Homo sapiens: one gene and its partners. The protein of the gene in region 3 purifies or fractionates together with the protein of the main gene of each other region. This does not show direct contact. Each region holds a gene or a part of one and is shown on either strand. Other genes may lie near its edges. The genes, in order: LETM1, HMGCS1, FGB, KIF2A, ETF1, DCPH1 and PYM1.

Region 1 (3,500 bases), about 150 Mb from region 3:
TCATCCATAATTCTTGATAAGTAGACAAGTCCATCAAAACAGCTGTACAGTCCTCATTGTTTAAATTTTTAAGTAGATGTTCAAAATTGGGAACTTTAAAAAAAGTTACGTGAATAAAGTACAGCTTTTATGTTTTGTTGTTAGCCCAGGCTGGAGTACAGTGGCGCCATCTTGGCTCACTGCAACTGCCACCTCCCGGGTCCCGGTTCAAGCAATTCTCCTGCCTCAGCCTCCTGAGTAGCTGGGATTACAAGAACATACCACCATGCCCAGCTGATTTTTGTATTTTTATTAGAGATGGGGTTTCACCATGTTGGCTAGGCTGGTCTTGAACTCTTGACCTCGTGATCTTCCCGACTCAGCCTCCAAAAGTGTTGGGATTACAGGTGTGAGCCACCGTGCCCGGCCAGCATTTATGTTTTAGTATGAAATTTAAATGCTAAAAAGTTGCTTGACAAATTCAACATCCATTCCTAATAAAAAGAGTAACAGACAGAACAAAGATTACTTAAACCCAAAAGCTAACATCATATGTCACAAACACTAGATCCTGTATTTTCTGCTATTGTGATACCGCATGACTGACTACAGCTGTTCTGACACAGATCTGGCTACTGAGCTAAGAAATGAAACCACCTCAGAAGCAGAAGCCCTGGGAAAGAAGAGGCAGATGATTACTATGTACTAAGATCACAGCCATAAACTAAACCTGGGCTGCTACAAGAGCTGAACAAATAACAGGAAAGGGGCCAGATACAAGAAAATTGTACAACTTAGCAACTTACGGGACAGCAATGATCACTTAGAAAAGATAATGAAAAGAATTAATGAAAATAATAAACATCTGGGAATTATCTAAAATGCAATGCATGTGGCCTATACAAAGAAAACAGGCCGGGTGCAGTGGCTCACACCTGTAATCCCAGCACTTTGGGAGGCCAAAGGCAGGAGGACTGCTTGAGTCCAGGAGTTCAAGAGCAGCCTGGACAACATAGTGAGAACCTGTCTCTACAAAAAATACCAAAAAGAAAAAAATTTAGCAAGGCATGTTGGTAATGCCTGTAGTCCCAGCTACTCAGGAGGCTAAGGTGGGAGAATGGCTTGAGCCTGGGAGATCAAAGCTGCAGTGAGCCATGATTGCACCACTGCACTCTAGCCTGGGCAATGAACAGAATGAGATCCTGTCTCAAAAAAAAAAAAAAAAGTAATATTCCTTCCCAACTGGTTTAATGACACTTCAGATACAATCCCAAAAAGACTGTTTTAGAAGTAAAATGGTTCAGCTCATCTAGAAGGAAGGTCCAGACTGACGAGGTTTGGGGGAACTGGTCCCCAGGGAGGAACAACTGCTGGAGAACTCACTAAAGAAAATAACGGGAGCAGCTAGGCGCAGTGGCTCACACCTGTAATCCCAGCACTTTGGGAGGCCGAGGTAGGTGGATCATCTGAGGTCAGGAGTTTGAGATGAGCCTGGCTAATGTGGTGAAAATTTTGTACTTTTGTACTAAAAATGCAAAAATTAGCTGGGTGTGGTGGCGGCGTCTCTAATCCCAGCTACTAGGGAGGCTGAGGCAGGAGAATCGCTTGAACCCGGGAGGCAGAGGTTGCAGTGAGCCGAGATTGCACCACTGCACTCTAGCCTAGGTGACAAGAACAAAACTCGGTCTCAAAAAAAAAAAAAAAAAAAAAAAATTAGCTGGGTGTGGTGTGCGCGCCTGTAATCCCAGCTACTTGGGAGGCTGAGGCAGATAACTGCTTGAACCCGGGAGGTGGAGATTGCAGTGGGCAGAGATCACGCCACTGCATTCCAGCTTGGTGACAGCGCGAGACTCTGTCTCAAAAAAAATAAAAATAAAAAAAAAAAAGAAAATGCAACCTTAAGGAAAAAGACATAAGAAAACCAATTTCTTTTCTCATCCAAAGTTATAATAAAACGTTATTCGTGGACCTTAAAGTTGCAGTTTCTGCCAGGCATGGTGGCTCACACCTATAATCCCAGCACTTTGGGAGGCTAAGGCAGGCAGATCACGGGAGGTCAGGAGTTCAAGACCAGCCTGGCCAACATGGTGAAACCCCGTCTCTAATAAAAATACAAAAATTAGCCAGGTGCGGCCGGACGCGGTGGCTCATGCCTGTAATCCCAGCACTTTGGGAGGCCATGGCGGGCGGATCACGAGGTCAGGAGATTGAGACCATCCTGGCTAACACGGTGAAACCCCATCTCTACTAAAAATACAAAAAATTAGCCGGGCGTGGTGGCGGGCGCCTGTAGTTCCAGCTACTTGGGAGGCTGAGGCAGGAGGATGGCATGAACCCGGGAGGTGGATCTTGCAGTGAGCTGATATTGCGCCACTGCACTCCAGCCTGGGTGACAGAGCGAGACTCCGTCTCAAAAAAAAAAAAAAAAAAATTAGCCAGGCGCAGTGAGGCATGCCTGCAATCCCAGCTACTCGGGAGGTTGAAGCAGGAGAATCACTTGAACCTGGGAGGCGGAGGTTGCAGTGAGCCAAGCATGTGCCACTGCACTCCAGTCTGGGTGACAGAGCAAGGCTCTGTCTCAAAAAAAAAAAAAAAAAAAAAGAAAAAAAAAAAGTCGCAGTTTCCAAGAACCTACAGACATTAAATGAGACTTGCTGTACATCAAAATACTGACACTGGGCACTTTGAGGGCACAGTTGCCAGTGCCCACTCCAACTGGGAGTCCAACAATTAAATTCCATTTAATTCCTGTTAGGGGACAGGAAGCCTTCTGTCCCCAGCTCTCCAAGTGCAACTGGGCACTGAGGTTAGGAATGTTTCTATACTGTCTATAGATTCACTGAGGCATGTGACAATCATTTTCAAAATGGAAAGATAAAGGTTTAAAAGAAACAAAGAACAGGAAAGTAGGATACACTGTTTCCCTCAAAAATCAAGAGTCACTCGTGACTCTCCACCATTTTCAAACCCTGTTTTCAAACAGACAGGTGCAGAGTGATACTGATTTACTCACAGGCAGTTCCTCAACCCCAGGGTGCTGGCACAGCTGAGATGAGCAGGATCCCCTGGACTACCTGTAACAGGAACAGGGGAAAATAAATGAGTAGTAAATCAGGGATTTATACTGATACCTTTTTTTGTTGTTGGTTTTTGGAGTTTCGCTCTTGCGCCCAGGCTAGAGTGCAATGGCGTGATCTCGGCTCACTGCAACCTCCACCTCCTGGGTTTAATTGATTCTCCTGCCTCAGCCTCCTGAGTAGCTGGAATTACAGGTGCCCACCACCATGCCCAGCTAATTTTTTTTTTTTAGTAGAGACAGGGTTTCATTCACCATGTTGGCCAGGCTGGTCTCAAACTGCCGACCTCAGGTGATCCGCCCGCCTTGGCCTCCCAAAGTGCTGGGATTACAGGCATGAGCCACCGTGCTCAGCCTTTTGTTCATTTTGATTTATTTGACTTTGCCCAGGCTGGAATGCAGTGGTACAGTCACGGCTCCCTGCAGCCTTGAACTCCTGGGCTCA
Region 2 (3,500 bases), on a different chromosome or scaffold from region 3:
CTTTATTTCAAAGTTATTCACCTCACCGTTAATAAGGTGTATGATTAATGCTCTGTGCCAGTATTTGCAGGCCTGCCCATTGCCGGCAATGGACTTTGAGAAAACCCATTTCCTGGCACCCAAAAGTTAAATTACTCTTTTCAAAACATACCGATCTCCCCAACACTTGCAAAAGTATTACATGCACCATTTTGCCACCATTCTTTAAATCAGAACTTACATTATTAATCTACATCAGTGAATGTTAAATGAAGTCATTTTAACAAATTATGACTGTACAAATCAAAATACTACTAGTTAATATTAGACAAGAGTATCTTACAAACACTACTATTACATATTACCTTGCAATCTGAAACATTATATTTCATATTTGTGTATATTTATTTTAGATAACTGAAACTTCACAGAATTTAACAGCAAATAAAGTTTAAAAAATTTAGTTCTGTACATTAGTTCCAACTATCCCTATTTTACAATCTATAAGGCTCATGTCATAGTTCAGCACCAAAAAGATCTACACAAAACTGTTTAACCAATCTTCTTATCTATCCTGTGTGATAGTTTTGTTTGTTGTTGTTTTTTAAGGTAAAAGTCCTACTTCAGACCTTGAAGTGGAATACTTCTAGTCAGACTAGGTAAAAACTTGGGTCATACCTTATTTTCATTGAACAGATACCAAAAAAAAAAAAAAAAGGAAAAGGAAAAGAGCTGTGTTACACCATGAATTTAGGTTGTCAGCCTCTATGTTGAATTTATAACACTGAAGCATCAGAAATAGCCTAATAATGCCCTGCCCCTATTCTTCCCTTCCATTTTAAATTTTTAAAAAAGTAACCAGAAAAATGTTTCATTTATTCTTTAAAATAAGGTGCAAAGAAGGACTGCAACAACAAACTCCCTCATCCACACCTCCAATAACATCTCACTGTTGTTCAGCATAATCTACCATGAACTGATTCAGGAGCACACCTAGAGCTATATTCACAGCTCCTGAATGTACCATGTTTTCTATACCAGAAGCCTCTTCAATGGCAGTGTTTCTCTGTTCAGAGGTCATTACAATAACTTTTGTCACTGCTGGCCTGGACTTAACATTCCAGATTCCAGAGCCAGTGTTTTATTGTCCCAGCTCTTTTCTTCCTCTTTAGGATTTATCAATTTTAGAAAAAGGGCATGTTTGTTTTGCTATTTTCAAAGGGTTTGTGCGTATCACATTTTACCACATTTTACCCCAATTTTACCACACTGGGGAATGTTGTCACATTCCCCAAGCTAGAAATGTTTTCCAAAAACCACAGGTACTTTCTGTAATCTTGTTGTTCAAAGTACAAAATTCTTACATGTTAAAAAATTTTTTAATTGGAGATTAGTACCTCTGCTTTCTTCTGACAGAAGTACACAATTCATTATACCATGTTTAAAAACCAAACATCATGCATACAAATGGCCAAAGAGGTATGAAGTTTTACAGAGCCCTTAACATCATTCGAGTACATTTGGCATTGGCCAGACCACAACAGGAAGCATGTCAGCAAATAGAGCAAAGAGACTTTCCCAAGTACACGATAGTCATCCAGGCTCCATGTCAGTCACATAAAAATTTACATAACATGTAATCCTTTAAAATTATCCCCAGATATCCCATTCCTCCAACTGTTCCCATACCCCCACCCCATGCCCACCCCACCCTGAAGTCTTGCACCTCACAGAGTATCTTAATGTTCCCCATTACTAATGACAGCTGCTTCAGGTTCTGCTGCTGTGGCAGGGAGTCTTGGTACTTTCTTGGCAGGGCTTGGAATATGCTAAAATGAAAGGAAAAAAGTTGATGGCTCTTATGATTCTTTCCCCCACAAGAATCATGGCACCAATTAAAGTTTCTGTAAAGAAACTTAATAAAGGACAACTCTGGAGAAGTTTATGCTAAATATATATTTTATATAACTTTTCATGAAGGGAACTCAATATCCATTTTTCACCTTATGGTGAATTTAGTATACAATTATCCATATGGGGGGGAGAGGAAGCCTGCCACAGAGACCCACCACGTAACAGTATTTTACTTGTTACGTCTTGTATTTGCAACTCAAACAGTGGCGGTTTGACTTGCTACCTAATTTGTATAATAGCAAAAAGCAAGACTATCCATTTACCAAACTTGTAGTAAGCAGATAAATAAGTAGTTTCAAGGTTATAAAGTCCTTAGTTTATAACCTGGCTTTAATACTTACTACCTATAATCCTGGGCAAGTAATGTAACTTCTTGGAGGCTCATCTCTAAAGGGAGGACAGTATCATTTATAAACTTCAAGGAGGTTGTTGTAAGGATTAAATAAGAAAACGTAAGTAAAGTGCCTAGCAGGTAACAGGAATTCAAATCATAGCTATGATTGTTACTTCTTGACAATTTGAGGACAGATTTTGACCATGATCTGGGATGAGATGTGAAAGGATCCTTGTCCCTCTACTCCATCTCTCACAAAGACACACACCACAAATGAACCTTCTCTCTATATCAGTCTTCCTTTAAATCCTGGTATCATTAATAAAACCTAGTATTTACTGTATATTCTTTTTTTTTTTTTTTTTTTTTTTTGAGATGGAATCTTGCTCTGTCGCCAGGCTGGAGTGCAGTGGTGTGATCTCAGCTTACTGCAACCTCTGACTCCCTGGTTCAAGCCATTCTCCTGACTCAGCCTCCTGAGTAGCTGGAATTACAGGCACGTGCCACCAAGCCCAACTAATTTTTGTATTTTTAGTAGAGACAGGGTTTCACCATGTTGGACAGGATGGTCTTGATCTCCTGACCTCGTGATCTGCCTGCCTCAGTCTCCCAAAGTGCTGGGATTACAGGCGTGAGCCACCGCACCCGGCCTTTACTGTATATTCTTAAAATATTAATAATTCAAATGCAAAGCACTTTATACAATTGGAAATAGTACAGCTAGAATCTACTCCCAGAGCCCTTACTCTTCTTTACTGACATTTATTTATGTTGCTAAATCCCAGTTAGGTCTCCTAAACCCTAAGATATGGAGATGGGAACTCTTTTATTTACCTCAGTTGCTATGTTTGAATGCACAAGTCCTACTCCTTCATCCAAAGTGTCATCATTTGGAGTGGGACGCCGAGCGTAAGTTCTTCTGTGCTTTTCATCCACCCTAACTAAGTACCACGTTCCTTCAAAGAGTGAATCTATTGAACCCTGGGGAATATAGTTGACTAAAGGAAAGGGAGAGAATATCTACAATTAGTTATGATATACAATTCATCTGGTAATAAAGCTAAAGATAAGTTTCATATATCCCAATAATTTTCACTGACATCAGATTAGTACTGAGTAAAGTCTTGATATCCTTATCGTATATGTAGCATCCTTAATGATATCAGCCCTCCAAATGGGTTAACTTAAAGAACATTTAATATTTTTACCCAAATGATGGGTGTCCTCTCTGAGCTTCATGTTTTCAGCGAAGACATCTGGTGCCACACCAGTT
Region 3 (3,500 bases):
AATGGTAGTTGCCAGGGGATGGGAGGTAGGGGGAAATGGAGATAAAATTTCATTTTTAGTAGATGAATATGTTCTAGAGATCTACTGTACAACATAATGCCTAAAATTAATAATACAGTATTGTGCACTTAAAAATTTGTTGATAATATTTCATATTAAATGTTCTTACCATGAAAAACTAAAATAAATGAACACAAGGAAACTTTTGGAGGTGATGGATATATTTAATATCTTGACTGTGCCAGTGATATCATGGGTGTATGCATATTTCCAAAATCATGAAATCGTATATGTTAAACACTTTGTATGACAGATGCATCCGACAGCATTAACTCAAGCATACCCTGAGAATGACTGTATGGTCTAAGAAGAATATGTGTTCAGAGTCTAAGCTAAGGAATCCGGGAATGGCCAACCCAGAGAGATTCACTTCTTATCTGTGAAGGACACTTGAACTCCCTGCCTGTCCGTTGGAACTCAGGATGTGCAAGGAACCAAGGCCTTTTATTTTGGGTTAAATGGAGGTTGCTAAGTGGAGAGTGCTAAGTAGAAATGTTATATAAACTACATACTCTTTACAAATAGTAGCGGTCCTGTCCAGCCCACTGCCACTGGACCACATCTGTATTTAAGTCCTAAATAAACCCTATGTCCCATTCACTGGCTCTGGGTCTCTTCTTGGACAAGGCGCCATCCCTGTTGGAATCAATAGGGCTCCAGCATGACACATGTGCAGGATTTTTTAAATTATATCAATTATATCTCAATAAAGCTGTTGAAATTTTTAAAGGGCCTGACCTGTCCTGGAATGGGGAAAAACTTAATGTGACAAAAATGTAGGTTATAGTGAAGGGAACAGGAAATGGTACTGGGACCATTTTTACTCCAGCTAAAAAATTTGAATTTAAGAAATTTGGATATAGATAGGAAGGAGCTAATGTTAAGCAGGAAGTAAGTTGATAAGAGTTTTCTGTTAAATGTGATGGCAAAGCGGTAGGTGAGTATGGGCTCCAGTGGGACAGAACTTGTGGCAGAGAAACCAGGTCAAAAGTTAAAGTTGGATTTGGTGAGTAATTAAAGAGAGTAGTAGCATTTCCAAGACAGAAATTAATGAGCTTTGCTTACATGAAAAGATTAAGAGGATAAGCTTAAGAACAATAAGTACCATAAAAATGGGTGGCAATGATGATACATTAGGGGTGGAGGACCTAGGGTCATAAGGTTGCCCGTGGCGACTTGGAGTGAAGTGTTGAGATGATATGCCCATTTCATGGGGAGAAGTAGAAAGAACAGAAAAACCACTTTTACTTTAGTTCTGGTGTAACTATGAAGAAAAAAAAGCCTAATTGAGGACAAGAATAGACCTCGTTTCTATGGGCAACAGGCATATTCTGCTCCCTATTTCATTATTTCGCTTAAAAAACACTTGGTGAAGACTTGATGCAGATTGTCCTCTTGGAATCTCTGATCCTGATGTTTATTTAAGTGGCAGAGTGGTGGCTTTTCCATGGTATATAGTCAGATTCTTTTTTTTTTTTTTTTGAGGTGGAGTCTCACGCTGTTGCCCAGGCTGGAGTGCAGTGTTGAGATCTTGGCTCAATGCAATCTCCACCTCACAGGTAGCTGGGACTACAGGCACCTGCCACCACGCCTGGCTAATTTTTGTATTTTTAGTAGAGATGGGGTTTCACCATATTGGTCAGGCTGGTCTTGAACTCCTGACCTTGTGACCGCCCGCCTCAGCCTCCCAAAGTGTTGGGATTATAGTCGTGAGCCACCGTGCCCGTCCTAGAGTCAGATTTTAAATCTTCAAATATTCAAGACCGGTTTATTAGCTATTTGAGGTTGTGAACGCTTCTCCTTCCTTACAAGTGCAAAGCCTAACTCATTGAATGTGTGGATTACAAAACAAGAAAACATTAACTTATTGCAACAGAGTCTGGTTTAATTAATAAATCTTTTTGGAAGTTTTCTTTGACAGATCCTACATAAATAAATATAGTTTTAAAAGTGGACTTTTAAACATCAGTTTTTCCTTTCCGTCATGGTTTTCCTACGACAAGGATAAAAGACCCCTCTTCCTTATTTGAAAATTCTCGCAATCAACTAGAACTGAAATTATGAACACCAACTCTGTCAAAACTATACTTTTGTTACTTCTTGGTGAGCAAGAGAAATGAAGAAAACAAAAGAAAATCATGTGCTATTTTAATGTAATTTATCCTATACTTTTTTCAAAAAGTCACACTCACGTCTGCTTGAGAGTTTTAGAGGAATATAATGTATGAAAGAAAATTCCAATAACATAATGTACAAAAATGTTGTCACATACAGAAGAGCAAAAATCTACGTATTGGGGACTATTGCTGTGGGAAGAAGGGCCTGATCTTCATACTCATCTTCCTCATTGAGTACCATGACCCCTTCCAATTCATCCATACTACACCATCATCTGTGCCATGCTTTGCCATGTCCCAGGTGTACTGTCCACCCCAGTAGTATCTGCCGTTTGGATTGGCTGCATGACATCTATTATACCACCATCCACCACCGTCTTCTTTAGAACACTGTTTTCTGGGATCTGATGTTAACCTGAAAGAAAATGTGTTTGGCGTTATTAGAAACAGAACTACGGTGGTCAAGTTACGTTTTGCAGATTACCCATAAAAGACTGCTACACTCGTGTGCACAGTAGTCTTTCCTTTGGGTGCTATACATAGAGTCACACTAATACACCAAAGACCTCCTGTGCCCTATAGCAAGAAAGAGAGATAACTGGGCCTTTGTGGCCAATCCATCTAGGGACTGTGTTTGTTACTTTATACTGGAATAATAGCTTTTACAACCCTTAGTATCAGAGAACCCTGGAAATGAAAATGAAAGTTTTCACACACACTTTAGAATATAGAGATATAGGTATTTATCTAAATGCTCATTATTCAGAAAGTAACTGTGCTCAAATTCTAGTTTTATCTCTGGGTAGTTGTGTGACATTGGACAAATCACGTAATCTCTCTAAATCTCATCTGTAAAATGAGAATAAGAATGTCTACCTTATAGTTGAAATGCTTTCGAGTGATGCATAAAGAGCTTAGGACAGTGGCTGACAGTAAGTGCCCAGGAAGTGGTAGCTATTAAAAATATTGTTAATGATTCTGAGTAATGATATTAGTGTGATTTTTAAAGCAGGAGCAAAGAGTGCCACACATACCAGCCGTCATTGTCTCTGTCATACGTGCTGAAGAACATGCCGTTGTGAATGGTCATGGTCCTGTTTTCTCCCATCAGCTGAGATGCTCCATCCATGAGGGCATTACCGGCTGTTCCTCTGTATTTGTTCACTGAGATCTGGTATTTGTTGGCTTCATTCTGTACAGTGAATCCTCCATAGTGAGCCTTTACTTTGTCTCCTTTCCAGTCCTCCATTTCTATCAAAAGTTCTGTGGGTCCCATCCTGGTAAGCTGGCTAATTTTATCATTTCCAAGCCAATATTCACCTA
Region 4 (3,500 bases), on a different chromosome or scaffold from region 3:
TCTTATAAAGGATAATCTTAATTAACATATTTTAAAAGGTCTCTTACTACAACTTGAACATTTAAGGGTCTGATCAGTTTTGAAAATTCTACTAACAGTTTTATTTTTTTTTTGAGACAAAGTCTCGCTCTGTCACCCAGGCTGGGGTGTGGTGGCGCAATCTTGGCTCACTACAACCTTTGTCTCCAGGCTTCAGGCGATTCTCCTACCCCAGCCTCCCAAGTAGCTGGGATAACAGGCGCCTGCTACCACGACTGGCTGTTTTTTATTTTTAGTAGAGATGGGGTTTCACCATGCTGACCAGGCTGGTATCGAACTCCTGACCTCAGGGGATCCACCCGCCTCGGCCTCCCAAAGTGCTGGGATTACAGACGTGAGCCACTGCGCCTGGCCAACAGTTTTAAAGCATAGTGTAGATGTTCCCATAAATGCTAATTCAAGAAAATAAAAAATGACAGCAAAAAAACCTACTTTATTCTTCCAACAGATATTTCTGGAAACTATGACTAGTGTTTGAAAGTGACAGGCAGTAGGATAACTGTAAAAAGTTAATTTCTTAACATGGCACTCCAAAAGAAAAAAACACAGAATGCCTTATTTTAGTCTTTCCAACCTTTGGTGTTCTACTCAAGGAAAAGATGTAATAACCTGGCCTAACATTTTGAAAGCCATTCCACATTTTTCTGAGAAACTGTTTCTTAGCTCAATTCAGTGGTTCGTTGCCCTCCTCCTAGAAAATATGACTAATTAAGACCCTCTGGGCCGGGCGCGGTGGCTCACGCCTGTAATCCCAGCACTTTGGAAGGCTGAGGTGGGTAGATCACGAGGTCAGAAGTTCAAGACCAGCCTAGCCAACATGGTGAAACCCCATATCTACTAAAAATACAAAAATTAGCTGGGTGTGGTGGTGCGTGCCTGTAATCCCAGCTCCTGGAGAGGCTGAGGCAGGAGAATGGCTTGAACCCAGGAGGTGGAGGTTGCGGTGAGCCGAGATTGTGTCACTGCACTCCAGCCTGGGCGAAAGAGCAAGACACAGTCTCAAAAAAAAAAAAAACCTCTGGAGTTTACCTATGTAGCCCCAGAACTGACCTACTAACTCACATATCCTTTATCCCATCTAAAAAGAATAAAGAATGTGTGCAAGGAAAAAATCTGGGTATAATAAAATCACACTATACATTACAAGCATCTGAATTTTGAAAACCTCTTTTTATTAGGTAAAACAAGTACTACTATTTTGCAACTGAGTAAAGAAAATTAAAGTCAAAAGTAAAAGACCTTTCATGATAAAATACATTTTATTTACCTTGAGTGCTAAAAGGCTTTTATTAATTTCAGCACCTTCAAGCCTAGTTTGCCTGTCCGCACTGGAAGTATCAGCTCCTCTTTCATTTCCAGCCAAATCAATGAGAGAAAATTTGCCATGTAGTTTTCCTTTCCTTCTAAGAATAATCTGAAACACTGCATGGCTCCGAGATGAATGTGCATTTGCAGATGTTTGACCGGATGTTCTACAATGTGATTAAGGACATCTTGATACATTAAAAACTTCAATTTACATGTTCAAACCACATTATTTTCATTAAAAACAACAGCAGCAAAAACATCGATTTAGCTAGTTTTCATCTTTTAAATACAGATGAGACACTGAGTTATAACACTTAAATAGAACCAGATTCATACAATTTAATCCGGCATATTTCTAATATATTTGTAATGTAGTATCAATATAATAATTGTCACTCACATTTACATGTAACACAAGTTTTTATGAACAATGATTTTTACTTCCAAGATGTATTGATAGATAACATCCTCATTTTGTTATACTGTACCCAAAGTTTCTAAAACTGATGTTTCCTTTCTTAATCAAAATGAGATTTACCTGCAACTGTTGCCTATGTCAATGAGTTTCAGTACATCTTCAACACATTTGACCTCCCGTTCCTGTAATCCCACCACTTGAACCTGCTGTTTTCCATCTTCTAGAACTCTTAATTTTGTTTTCCTGTTTAGCAAGTCAAACACCTATGAAAAACCATATTCAAATTAGAAAACTAGCTTTAAAGTAAAAAACAGGCTAGGTGCAATGGCTCACGCCTGTAATCCCAGCATTTTGGGAGGCTGAGGCAGGAGGATGGCTTGAGCTCAGGAGTTCAAAACCAGCCTGGGCAACATAGTGAGACCTTGTCTCTGCTAAAAATAAAACAAATTAGCTGGGCATGGTGGTGCATGCCTATAGTCGCAGCTACTAGGAAAGCTGAGGCGGGAAGCTCACTTGAGCTCAGGAGATTGAAGCTACAGTTAGCTGTGATCATGCCACTGCACTCCAGCATGGGTGACACAGCGAGATCCTGTGGCAATTAAAATATCAGTTCTATAAAAATGAGTCACCCAGAGTTTAAGAATTATTTCAGAGATTAAAATAATAATTGGAATAAGAATTCTCAACACTGAAGTTGAAAAGTTTCAAAGGACTTTTTAAAAAAATCTCATAACATAAATTCTAATATAAAAGTTCTAAATACACATAAATTATGGTGGTAAACGCTGCACAACAATGTGAATATATTTAATGCCACTGAACTTAAAAATGGTTAAAATGGCAAATGTTATGTTATATATATATTTTAAAAAATTAAAATTAAAAAAGTTCCCACTTACCTTTCCACTATAAATTTCAAAGAAGGTTGCATATACTTGAAGTTCTAGCTTCTTATAGTTTGGCTTCTTTAGCATTAAAAAGACATCTCGAGCTGTCAAAAATTTCATATACAGAAAATTGAGATCCAACAAATATTTTTAAAAAGCAACTCAAATTTTCTATTTCTAGAGGAATCAGTTACTCTTTACCTAGGATAACAGTATCAATAATAAAAATGAGAAAGTGAATATTAATTTTACAAAAAATAGTATTAATAGAAGCTATTCTCTTTCATATGCCATAAAAGGGTGCTACTTTTATTTATATATATTAATATTTATATTTATAAATAGCATAAAATTATAGGTGGTCATAATGAGGTTATTCTTATACCATAGCTAGTAGCTTTTTACAGTTCAGAAATTCAACAATTGAGACTCATCTCCAACAATGTGCTAGAATGCACTGACAAATATAATCAAGATTTCTGCCCCCTCAAAATCAATCTTACAGTTCTTTTTTTTTTTTTTGAGATGGGGTCTTGGTCTGTTGCCCAGGCTGAAGTGTAGTGGCATGATCTTGGCTCACTGCAACCTCTGCTTCCTGGGTTCAAATGATCAAACAATTCTGCCTCAGCCTCCTGAGTAGCTGGGATTACAGGCGCCCGCCACCACGCCTGGCTAAGTTTTTTTTTGTATTTTTAGTAGAGATGGAGTTTCACCATGTTGGCCAGGCTGGTCTCGAACTCCTGACCTCAAGTGATCCACCCACCTTGGCCTCCCAAAGTGCAGGGATTACAGGCATGAACCACCACACCCAGCCTACAGTTCTTGTCTTCTTAAAAAAAAAAAAAATT
Region 5 (3,500 bases), on a different chromosome or scaffold from region 3:
CAGTGCCAGGTACCCATGTTGTCTGGCTTTTGCTCACTTACTGAGTTAGCCTTGTTGGCTTTTTTCCAAACCTTAACTCCTTTTCTAAGATACTGTTTAATCTTGCTAACTTTGTACATTTTAGCTTTAACTGAGAGGGTTATATCCTGTTTATCAGGGTAATTATATATTCTAATAAGGGATATGCCTATTCCCTGATAAGCAGATTTATTAAAAACTTCAATCTACCTAACGGGTCATTTTGATAAGGCTATATTATTAACGTGCAATATTCATATTCATGTCTTTTTTCTTTTTCTTTTTCTTTTTTCTGAGATTGAGTTTTGCTCTGTTGCCCAGGCTGGAGTGCAATGGCACGATCTCGGCTCCTTGCAACTTCCACCTCCCGAATTCAAGTGATTGTCCTGCCTCAGCCTCCTGAGTAGCTGGGATTACAAGTGTGCACCACCACGCCCAACTAATTTTTGTATTTTTAGTAGATGAGATTTCACCATGTTGGCTAGGCTGGTCTGAAACTCCTGACCTCGAGTGATCCACCCACCTTGGCCTCTCAAAGTGCCATTGCAGGCATGAGCCACCACGCCCGGCCACAATATTCATGTCTTAATGCCAACTATCTAGCATGGTTTGTTAAAGATGGATTCTTAGTTGATCCATCTGCTTTCTAGTCAATTATTGAAGGGGCTATTTTCTTAAAATGGAATGGTAAGGCCAGGTGTTGTGGCTCACACCTATGTAATCCCAGCACTTTGGGAGGCCAAAGAGGAGGATCAGTTTATAAAAATAAAATGGAATGGGTAACAATTTCTTACTTCCAAAGAGATTGTCCCCTGGCAATTAGAGATCAACTAAGTGTGTAGTATTCCGATTCCACTGTGAGAACTCTTATCTATGTATGTCCCAGGACTGTTTCAATATTTTCTCTTTGGGAAGGCATAAAGGGATATAAAGTTAACATAGAAGGAAGGTTTTCCTCATAAAACTCAGAATCATTAGCTGCAATACCTTTAAAGACATGCTGGCTCATGCCTGTAACCCCGGCACTTTGGGAGGCTAAGGCAGAAGGATCATTTGAGTCCAAGACTTCGAGGCTGCAGTGAGCTATGATGGCTACTGCACTCCAGCCTGGCCAGCAAAGTGAGACCCTGTCTCAAAAAAAAAAAAAAAAGGAACAAGTTAAAGTTTTTTTGTTTTTTGAGACAAGGTCTCTGGATCACCCAGGCTGGAGTACACTGGCACAATCTTGGCTCACTGCAACCTACACCTCCCAGACTAAAGCCTTTCCAAGTAGCTGGTAGGGACTACAGGCACGTGTCACCACAGCCACCTAATTTTTGTATTTTTTTGTAGAGACAGTGTTTCGCTATGTTGCCCAGGCCAGTCTCAAACTCCTGAGCTCAAGCCATCTGCCTGCCACAGCCTCCCATAGTGCTGGGATTACATGTGTGAGCCATCATACCCAGCTTAGAACTCTATATTATAAAACTGAAACTGTATCCATTGAGCAATAATTCCTTGTTCCCCCTTTTTTCCAGCCCCTGGCAACCACCATTTGACTTTTTGTCTCTGATTTTGATTACTCCAGGAACCTCATATAAGTGGAGTCATACAGTATTTGTCCTTTTTTGACAGGGTTATTTCACTTAGCATGTATTCAAGTTTCATCCCTGTTGTAGTGTGTTTCAAAATTTTCTTCCTTTTTGAGATTGAGTAGTATTAACTGCTGTATGTAATATTGCTATAAACATGGGCATACAGATATCTTTCTGGTTTTATATTTACATGCCCATGTCAAATGTGTTGAAAAGCTTCACATAGATATCATTCGTTATTTCCTTATTGGGTTCAAATTTGTCCATAAGAGTTACATGTTTATAACTGAAGTCTATAAATTATTCCGTAGAAGGTTTTCCCACAGTGCTAATAGCATGGTGAGTGGAGTGAAAGGGCTTGTATATATCCTTTCAGAGTTTTTTTGACCTTAGCAAAGCTTTGGGATTCACCGTGTGGTACTTGTGTTTGCTTTTCAGGCTCTTACAGCACTACTTTCAGATGATAGCAAGTTTGGATTCATTGTAATAGATGGTAGTGGTGCACTTTTTGGCACACTCCAAGGAAACACAAGAGAAGTCCTGCACAAATTCACTGTGGATCTCCCAAAGAAACACGGTAATACAGGAGGAGAACATGAACCCACTTACTTTGTGTCTAGCAATAAGAAAACAGTATGGTGGGCCGGGTGCGGTGGCTCACGCCTGTAATCCCAGCACTTTGGGAGGCCGAGCCGGGTGGATCACGAAGTCAGAAGTTCGAGACCAGCCCGGCCCTGTCTCTACTAAAAATACAAAAATGTGACGGGCGCCTGTAATCCCAGCTACTTGTGAGGCTGAGGCAGGAGAATTGCTTGAACCCGGGAGACGGAGGTTGCATTGAGCCAAGATTGCGCCACTGCACTCCAGTCTGGGCGACAGAGTGAGACTCTGTCTCAAAAAAGAGAGAGAGAGAAAACAGTATGATGTGAGGGGAGTGAATCCAGATGATGGGGAGAGAAGCCTCCTGTAATGACTGGTGCCTCATTGGTACTTACAGCTCCTCTCTTGACATAGACTTAGTAGTCGCTCTCTGAAAACAAGTAGCAGTTTATGCTGAACGTTTAGTTAAGGGAATGGTGATTTTTCTTTGTCCTTTTCTTAGATGATGACATGATTATTTTATTTTTAATTTGAAGACATCTTGTAGTTCTTAATAATTGCCTTTTTCTCTTGCTACTTTTGTGTCAAAGGTAGAGGAGGTCAGTCAGCCTTGCGTTTTGCCCGTTTAAGAATGGAAAAGCGACATAACTATGTTCGGAAAGTAGCAGAGACTGCTGTGCAGCTGTTTATTTCTGGGGACAAAGTGAATGTGGCTGGTCTAGTTTTAGCTGGATCCGCTGACTTTAAAACTGAACTAAGTCAATCTGATATGTTTGATCAGGTAAGTAAGAAGTAGATGCTTTATTATGTAAGACCCTAGGTAGGAGTAGGTGAGTCCTCTGTGTGAGCACTGGAACAGACACATCTTTTTAAAATTCCTTGGGTTAAAAACTTGCCTCTGAGTTAAACAGCAGGTTTACAGATGTTTATCAGGAAACATTCCCCTGTGCTTTTCTGAACCCCTTCTCTTCTGAAATCAACCATTTTTAGGTGGGCTTCTTATGGATCCTGTGGAGGTTCCTTGTTTAGTTGGGTTGTCAGAATTGGCTGTAGAATGGAGTTTGATTTCAAAGAAACTAAAACCTGTTCCTTATTTTCTTTTTCTGATTTATTCTTGGAGATACATAGCAGCAAAGCTCTCAGCAGTATGACAGCTGATTCAGCCTAAAGCATTTAAAGCACATTTTATAACATGGGCTCAGCCATAATACACTTTCAAGATCTGGAGGAAGTAGCCTTATGGTAGAAGGTCCACCAAAGAAATTGCCTTTAAAAAAAAAAAAAAATATATATATATATATATATATA
Region 6 (3,500 bases), on a different chromosome or scaffold from region 3:
TGAGTGAAAGAAGCCAGACACAAAACTATACACTGTATCATTTCATTTCAGTAAAGTTAAAAAACAGGCAAAACTAACACAGGTCAGAACAATGGTTATCCTTGAGGAGTAATGAAGGCAGTGACTGGAAAGGGACTCAAAGTGGACTTTTGGGGTCTGTAAGGTTCCGTCTCTTGATCTGGGCACTGGGTACACAAGTATGTTCTTGAACACATAAGACATGCACATTTTTCTATATGTATATTACACTTTATTAAAAAGTTTTTCTAAAAATCTAATATTTTCTCTGTACTTTCATCTTTCAATATCTGAAGTGTATTTACCTAATATGTTTAAATTTCACATATGGCTAAAACTTTGAATCTTAATTTAGACTGGCAGACTATTGCATGTTTCAGTGTAAAATGGTAAATCAATATAAACATGTCTTTTATAAAAGCTGGTCAGTCTGGAGTTGCCATTGACCTAGGATAGGGATCCCCCATAGAAGAACCTAAAAATTAGACATTTAAGAATTACTTCAGTGCTGGCTCCATTGTAAGATGGCTCTTTATCTGCCACAGAAACCGCTTTGGGAAGAGTTCTACATCCGTGATTGTGCAACATTCTAGTTTCTTGAACTTAAAGATGCATGTTCCCTCTATCCCATTTAACAATCTGTTCGCTGAACCAGTGGATATCATCACTCCCTGAGCTTCCGAAAGAAAAACTGATACCCAGGCCCCACCCCAGATAAATTAAGCAATTTGTATTTATTCCAACACAATAATCTAAAACTATGTGGTGTTTTTTTTGAGACGGAGTTTCGCTCTTGTCGCCCAGGCTGGAGTACAACGGCACAATCTCGGCTCACTGCAACCTCCACCTCCTGGGTTCAAGTGATTCTCCTGCCTCAGCCTCCTGAGTAGCTGGGATTACAGGTGCCCATTACCATGCCTGACTAATTTTTGTATTTTTAGTAGAGACAGGGTTTCACCATGTTGGCCAGGCTGATCTCACACTCCTGACCTCGGGAGATCCACCTGCCTCAGGCTCCCAAAGTGCTGAGATCACAGGCGTAAGCCACTGTGCCTGGCCTAAAAATACGCATTTTTGAAGCCACCTTCCTTTTCCCCAACTGGGTCATAAATGTGCAGCCAGGTTTGTGAAAATCTGCTCTAGGTATTTTTAGTCTCTGAACCTGATCAACCTCTAAAATCAAACTCAGAAACAGCATTCCTCTTGCCTTAAACACACAAACTCCACCAACCCCACTCAAGATGCCACCCAGTCTTTCAACACTTTGGCAGCTTTGGCTCCTACCACAGATATTTTCCAAAATTAGGAAACCATCACCCCGAATTTCAGACTACTCTCAGTCCTTGACAGGCATCTAAATCTACTATTTGGGAAGAATGGCTGAATAAGGACACTAATCTGATTCACACAGACCAGGCTCAAATCCTGGTTCCACCACCTACTAGCCATGTCACCTTGGGCATGTTAGAAATCTCTCTGAGCCCAATCACCTAAACTGTTAAAATGGAAACCATAACAACGCCTACATTTCACTGGGTTGCACAGTCACTAGAACATTGCTAGTTACTGACAGCTCCTTACATCTTCTGCTGTTCTGCTGGGGTGCCTTCTCCATGCCAAGCAGTGCACCGGAGTTTTTTTTGTTGTTTTTTTGTTTTTTTTTTGAGACAGAGTCTTGCTCTTTCACCCAGGCTGGAGTGCAGTGGTGTGATTTCGGCTCACTGCAACCTCCGCCTCCTGGGTTCAAGTGATTCTCCTGCCTCAGCCTCCTGAGTAGCTGGGACTACAGGTGCGCACCACCGCGCCCAGCTAATTTTTGTATTTTTAGTAGAGACGGGGTTTCAGCATGTTGGCCAGGATGGTCTCGACCTCTTGACCTTTTGATCTGCCTGCCTCGGCCTCCCAAAGTGCTGGGATTACAGGTGTGAGCCACCGCACCCGGCCTGCACCAGAGTTTTAATAGTGTATTTTGCTTTTAGATCAGAAGTTCTAAAACCTACCTATCAGAAAAAACAACAAATTGTGATATGAAAAAAAAATATATAGGCTGGGCGTGGTGGCTCATGCCTGTAATCCCAGCACTTTGGGAGGACGAGGAGGGCAGATCACCTGAGGTCAGGAGTTCGAGGTCAGGAGTTCAAGGCCAGCCTGGCCAACATAACGAAACCCCATCTCTACAAAAAATACAAAAACAAAAAAAGTTAGCCAGGCATGGTGGGAGGTGCCTGTAATCCCAGCTACTCGGGAGGCTGAGGCAAGAGAACTGCTTGAACCCGGAAGGCAGAGGTTGTAGTAAGCCAAGATCGCGCCACTGTACTCCAGCCTGGGCGACAGAGCGAGACTCCATCTTAAACAAACAAACAACAACAAGAACAACAACAACAACAAAATATATACGTGTGTGTGTAAGATTAAGACAAAAAAGCTAATGAACAGATTTTAAAGTTCCATATGTTTCCCAAAATAATTTTATTTTACAATTAGTGCTGACTTGATAGGTCACTTTAAATTGTCCTATGCTATGTTTAGGAACAGATACCAAAGGATTCCTCTTAACAAACCTGTATTTTTGGAACCTGTGCTTATTAAGGATAATCCAATCATCCCCATTAACTTTTCTTTGGCACTATAAATAACAGTTTTTTGTTTTTTGGTTTTTTTAAACAGTCTCGCTCTGTCGCCCAGGCTGGAGTGCGGTGGTGTAATCTTGGCTACTGGAACCTCCGCCTCCCAGGTTCAAGTGATTCTCATGCCTCAGCCTCCGGGGTAGCTGGGACAACAGGCATGTGCCACCACACCTGGGTAATTATATATTTTTTGTAGAGACGGGGTTTCGCCACGCTCACCAGGCTGGTCTCAAATTCCTGACCTCGAGTGATCCACCTGCCTTAGCCTCCCAAAGTGTTGGGATTCCAGGCATGAGCCACCACGCCTGGTCTAAAAACTAGTTCTCTATCAGATGTTTTCCTAGGAAAAATTAAATAATATAAACAAGCCTAGAAAAAGTTACTTTGAAACATGTGTACTTTTAAAATCTTTTTCTAAACTAGCCTTTTTAAAAAAAGATGAAAGATTAAGACTATAATACAATAGTATGATTCACTGTTCTCATGACTCCTTAAACCAAGTAAGTTGTAACGTTTATTATCTATTTCAATAAACAAAACATATGCTTACTTTGTCCCATCCTTATTTATATAAATGTAACTATTTCAAATTTACATTTTTTACTCAATAAGCAAAACTTCTTTTATTCTAGAAGTCTTTGTTGGAATCTTTAATTAATTCACGCTTTATTTATCTATTTTATTGAGACAGAGTTTCACTCCGGTGCTCAGGCTGCAGTGCAGTGGTGCAATTTTGGCACACTGCAACCTCTGCCTCCCAGGTTCAAGCAATTCCCATTCCTCAGCCTCCCAGGTACCTGGGATTACAGGCCCGTGCCACCATGCCTCGCTAATTTTTTTATTTTTAGTAGAGAC
Region 7 (4,147 bases), on a different chromosome or scaffold from region 3:
TAGAAGCGGAAGCCAAGAAAACATCTCTAATCATACCCATCATTAGAGACAACAGAAGTGCCTGCTTAGTATAGAAAATCAAAATGAATAAAGAAAGCAAGAGGATATTATCAAAGTGGCTGGTCACAGAGGTCTAGCTGGGCAGCACCAAAGGCCATAAGGTACTGACAGATTCAATGAAATGGGAAGGTCAAGAACCAGAGAACTTGAGGACAAAAAGCTGATCCTGTGGGTTTAAGATAGTGAAATAGGTGACTGGTAAGGAGGCTAAAGTGATGGGGAGCAGCTGAAGAAAAAGCGGTGTCCTAGATGAGATCCAGGTTGTAGTGATTCTGATGTGCAACTGGTTTGAAAATACAAAGGAAAGTCGACCGTCTCATGCTGAGGAACTATGAAATCAGAATATTCCAATGGTGCTGGAGACACTGAAAATGATAGCAAGAAAAAAAGGAGAGAAAAAAATATGATGCAATAGGTCTGGGTCCCTGTGGGCAGTAAATGATGACACTAAAGTTTTACAGAAACTGCTATAATTGCATGGCAATACCTTCCATGAGGATTAGAGTGACAGTGGTAGATCAATGATCTGGACATAGTAAAGGAAAACAAAAAAGCAGTTTATTCCTTTTTCTCTTCCACATAGTCACGGAAAACAGAAAACAGCTTTTAGTGACAAGGTAAGGTAAGATGTGATACCTGGATTTTCACGGAGTCAGGGTAAAGAAAATGATTAAGAGTAAAGAGAAGTATACTGGATAAGTAGTATTTTCAAAACACACATTAAAAGTTGGTAATTCATGAAGGAGCTACTGGGTAGAGAACAGAAGGAAAGAGGTAGTACCACTTTAAATTGTGAGGTTGGGGAGAAGTAGCAGCAACCTGGGTTGTCATCAGATACCATAAAATAGGTGGGCTGAGGTGTAAGGAACATGGAAAGCAGCAGAGCAAGAAGCAAAATGGCACATTTTAAAACACCGTGTGTACCAAGGCACAGGCACACTGTTGCTTCTACAGACTACAGACTACACATATGAGGGCTACAAAAACAGAAACACTTTGCACTTGCACAGTATTTTATAAATTGCTTTTACATATATTATTTGATCATCATTGAGTAGCTATTACTACTATGCATATTTTCCTAAAGATGAGGCCATTAGGAAGGGACAAAACCATGATAAAAGCTGTGATTCTCCGTTTCCAACACATACACCTTACATACACAGCAGACACTTCAGCATCTCGGCCAGCCAGGCTGCAAATTCTTCTCTAGCCAGAAGGAATAGTGGGTTTTATTCACTTGTCAAAGGGCTTCGGAGAAAAGCCACTAGATACTTTCCTGTTTGCCTTTTCCCACCTTAGACCCCTCAATTTCTATCACCATCACGGGAGAAGGTAGCGAAGGGTGGCTCCATCAGGGAGAAAACTCAAGCTGAAAGTTGTATTAGGGTCCTCTTCCCTTCACACCTCTAAACCTCAGTGACCCAACAAATGAAGATACGGGAGAGGAAAAGGTACTATGTAGAAACGAGGAGGTCTTCAGCAAATAAAGCTTCGAGAAAAATAATGAAAACGGGACTGGGGTAGGGCAGAAACCAAGTATAGCTGAGATGGGGGAGGGGAAAAGAAGGAGGGCAGGAACTGGAGGGAAATGAGAGTGTAGAAGCCCCCAAGCCTGAAGAACCTAAAAGAGATATGAGTGGTCCAACTGCTGGAGAAAAGCTAAGGGCCCGTGAGGGTCCTGAAGCAGGGACCAGCACTGAAGGACCCCAGGGTTTGGGTGACCGGAAGCAGAGACCCCAAACACGAGACCAGAAGGGGGCGCAGGAGACACCCCGTAGGAGAGAATGAATGGGGAAGGCGGTCCGGGGGGCGGGGCAAAGGAGGGGCCCCGGGATGGGCGGGGCACAGACCCCTTTCCAAGTCCGAACCCCTGCCCCGAGAGCCCGGAGAGAAGCGGCTCCGCGCCTCCCGCACTCACCGCCGGTCTCGTCAGTAACATAGGGAGTCGCCATCTTGAAAACGCAAACCACTTCCGGCGTGAGCGGGCTGGGGTCCCGCCCCCCTCCCCACCGGAAGTGGAGTCCCGATCGTAGCAAGCCACCATCTTAGTCTTAAAGGGAGAGTGCACCATTTCATGGGCGGAGGTGGAGGAGGAGGAAGAGTGGAGAAGCTGAAATAGTTAATAAAATAAAGCCGTGGGCTTTTTACTGCCACCGATACCATTACTGAGCGCTTGCTGCCTGTAAAACAGTCCTCAGGGAGCCAAGAGAAGTTCCGAGGCACAGTCCCTCTCATCCCCAGGAACTCCTCGTACGTCCAGGACCTGCGAGGGAAAAGGGCGCAAGGCCCACCTGCACCCAAAAAGGGGGCCTTATAAATGAAGAAAGGAAGAATATCCAGGCTCTGGCCTGCACCCAGATCTCAGAGCGGCTTGGTGACGTGGAGCAGACAAACTCCAGGAACGCACTGGGGCGCACAAGTGTTTCTAGGGACGGTTGGAGACCCTATCTAACCCTAAGAAGGTGGGGAGGTCGAATTCGTGTGCCGATTGCTGTCGGCCAACCCACTCAACCACCAGAGACCCGCGGGAGGGGCGTGCAAGGCGGAGGGCGCCGCGGGTCGGTCACCTGTCTCCGTAGCCGCAGGGCTGCCGGCAGCTTCCATGGCCGAAGAGGCAGCGGACCAGGTTGGGCGGGCGGCCCTGGCCTGGCTCTGCCCCGCTGGGCGGCGCCGGGGATTCGGCGGCGAAGTGATGAGGGCCCTAGTTGCTTCTCGCCCAGACCTCCTAACCCTGAGTGCCTCCTCGGGCTGGGCCCTAGGGTCAGAGGGCAGGGTGAAAGCTTCTGGGCGGACCTACTTAGTATTCTAATTAAACTCGTCCAACCGCTGAGGATCTAAAGCGGGGCAACTCGCCAATAATCCGGTCCCGTAGTGTCACTCCATTTGTAGTCCTGCCCTGCGCCGTACCTCCCTATTCTGCAGACGAACCCATATGGTCTCCCTCCGCCGCCCATTTCAGCAACTGTTGTTCCTTCAGGGCTAAGTCCTGTTAAACTTGTTTCCCCTACAGCCTGAGAGGAGCCCGGCTGCAGGTTCCTCTCCTCAGGTGTCAACTCTGCCCTCCTCCACCCTCATATAGCTTTTTCCTTATCAACCCTTTTACCTTCCTGCTTATATCCCCACTTTGGCTTAGTTTAATGTCCAGCAGTACCCCTGGAACCAGGGAGGAGGCAGGAGGTAAGTATTGGTGACTACCTCCAACACTAGGCAGCATGTCCCATTTAAAAAACAAAACAAAACCCAGGCGCGGTTGCTCACGCCTGTAATCCCAGCACTTTGGGAGGCCAAGGCGGGTGGATCACGAGGTCCGGAGTTCAAGACCAACCTGGCCAAGATGGCGAAACCCCGTCTCTACTAAAAATACAAAAAAATTAGCCGGGCGTGGTGGCGGGTGCCTGTAATCTCAGCTACTCGGGAGGCTGAGGCAGAGAATTTCTTGAATCTGGGAGGCGGAGGTTGCAGTGAGCCAAGATCGCTCCACTGCACTCCAGCTTGGACGACAGAGTGGGACCCCGTCTCAAAAAAAAAAAAAAAAAAAAAAAAAAAAAACTAAAAAACTGAGCAATGGCTGACTAGGACCTTTATAAGACAAATTAGGCCTCAGAAGTTTTCTGGGGGCCGCAGCTTGCCTTCCTTCCCATCCTCCATGTCTGTGACTTCCACTAGAGGCCAATTCAGAATGTCTGGGGGTGGGGCTCATTTAAAAAGTATTTCCAGGCCGGGTGCGGTGTCTCATGCCTGTAATCCCAGCACTTTGGGAGGCCCAGGTGGGCAGATCACTTGAGGTCAGGAGTTCGAGACCAGCCATGGCCAACATGGTGAAATCCCATCTCTACTAAAAATACAAAAATTAGCCGGGTGTGGTGGCGAGTGCCTGTAATCCCAGCTACTCGGGAGGCTGAGGAATGAACCTGGGAGGTGGAGGTTGCAGTGAGCCAAGATCGTGCCACTGCACTCCAGCTTGTATTATAGAGCAAGACTCAGTCTCAAAATAAATAAATAAAAAGTATTTGCATACGATACACTGTTATTGCAAGTGTTGTGACACTGTGGTCTTAAACCCTTGCTCTCTTTTCACCGATTG

The links.
Region 1: the proteins of FGB (region 3) and LETM1 purify together in Homo sapiens (affinity purification with mass spectrometry; 2 studies listed by BioGRID and IntAct, with this or other methods). This does not show direct contact.
Region 2: the proteins of FGB (region 3) and HMGCS1 purify together in Homo sapiens (affinity purification with mass spectrometry; 2 studies listed by BioGRID and IntAct, with this or other methods). This does not show direct contact.
Region 4: the proteins of FGB (region 3) and KIF2A purify together in Homo sapiens (affinity purification with mass spectrometry; 2 studies listed by BioGRID and IntAct, with this or other methods). This does not show direct contact.
Region 5: the proteins of FGB (region 3) and ETF1 purify together in Homo sapiens (affinity purification with mass spectrometry; 2 studies listed by BioGRID and IntAct, with this or other methods). This does not show direct contact.
Region 6: the proteins of FGB (region 3) and DCPH1 purify together in Homo sapiens (affinity purification with mass spectrometry; 2 studies listed by BioGRID and IntAct, with this or other methods). This does not show direct contact.
Region 7: the proteins of FGB (region 3) and PYM1 purify together in Homo sapiens (affinity purification with mass spectrometry; 2 studies listed by BioGRID and IntAct, with this or other methods). This does not show direct contact.

The regions. Positions count from the first base shown.
Region 1 is NC_000004.12:1,846,157-1,849,656, forward strand, and holds part of LETM1 (mitochondrial proton/calcium exchanger protein precursor), read right to left. Parts: intron 3,054-3,500; coding exon 2,993-3,053; intron 1-2,992. UniProt on the Homo sapiens protein: Plays an important role in maintenance of mitochondrial morphology and in mediating either calcium or potassium/proton antiport. Mediates proton-dependent calcium efflux from mitochondrion.
Region 2 is NC_000005.10:43,289,413-43,292,912, forward strand, and holds part of HMGCS1 (hydroxymethylglutaryl-CoA synthase, cytoplasmic), read right to left. Parts: coding exon 3,436-3,500; intron 3,226-3,435; coding exon 3,062-3,225; intron 1,809-3,061; coding exon 1,719-1,808; 3' UTR 1-1,718. UniProt on the Homo sapiens protein: Catalyzes the condensation of acetyl-CoA with acetoacetyl-CoA to form HMG-CoA, which is converted by HMG-CoA reductase (HMGCR) into mevalonate, a precursor for cholesterol synthesis.
Region 3 is NC_000004.12:154,569,511-154,573,010, reverse strand, and holds the end of FGB (fibrinogen beta chain isoform 1 preproprotein), read right to left. Parts: intron 3,498-3,500; coding exon 3,212-3,497; intron 2,593-3,211; coding exon 2,361-2,592; 3' UTR 204-2,360; downstream 1-203. UniProt on the Homo sapiens protein: Cleaved by the protease thrombin to yield monomers which, together with fibrinogen alpha (FGA) and fibrinogen gamma (FGG), polymerize to form an insoluble fibrin matrix. Fibrin has a major function in hemostasis as one of the primary components of blood clots.
Region 4 is NC_000005.10:62,361,706-62,365,205, reverse strand, and holds part of KIF2A (kinesin-like protein KIF2A), read right to left. Parts: intron 2,757-3,500; coding exon 2,665-2,756; intron 2,029-2,664; coding exon 1,886-2,028; intron 1,512-1,885; coding exon 1,307-1,511; intron 1-1,306. UniProt on the Homo sapiens protein: Plus end-directed microtubule-dependent motor required for normal brain development. May regulate microtubule dynamics during axonal growth. Required for normal progression through mitosis. Required for normal congress of chromosomes at the metaphase plate.
Region 5 is NC_000005.10:138,512,237-138,515,736, reverse strand, and holds part of ETF1 (eukaryotic peptide chain release factor subunit 1), read left to right. Parts: intron 1-2,030; coding exon 2,031-2,169; intron 2,170-2,782; coding exon 2,783-2,973; intron 2,974-3,500. UniProt on the Homo sapiens protein: Component of the eRF1-eRF3-GTP ternary complex, a ternary complex that mediates translation termination in response to the termination codons. The eRF1-eRF3-GTP complex binds to a stop codon in the ribosomal A-site.
Region 6 is NC_000006.12:151,458,966-151,462,465, reverse strand, and holds part of DCPH1 (damage-control phosphatase ARMT1), read right to left. Parts: intron 1-3,500. UniProt on the Homo sapiens protein: Metal-dependent phosphatase that shows phosphatase activity against several substrates, including fructose-1-phosphate and fructose-6-phosphate.
Region 7 is NC_000012.12:55,925,095-55,929,241, forward strand, and holds the start of PYM1 (partner of Y14 and mago), read right to left. Parts: upstream 2,801-4,147; 5' UTR 2,668-2,800; coding exon 2,631-2,667; intron 2,526-2,630; exon of another isoform or gene 2,222-2,525; intron 2,032-2,221; exon of another isoform or gene 2,016-2,031; coding exon of another isoform or gene 1,982-2,015; intron 1-1,981. UniProt on the Homo sapiens protein: Key regulator of the exon junction complex (EJC), a multiprotein complex that associates immediately upstream of the exon-exon junction on mRNAs and serves as a positional landmark for the intron exon structure of genes and directs post-transcriptional processes in the cytoplasm such as mRNA export, nonsense-mediated mRNA decay (NMD) or translation.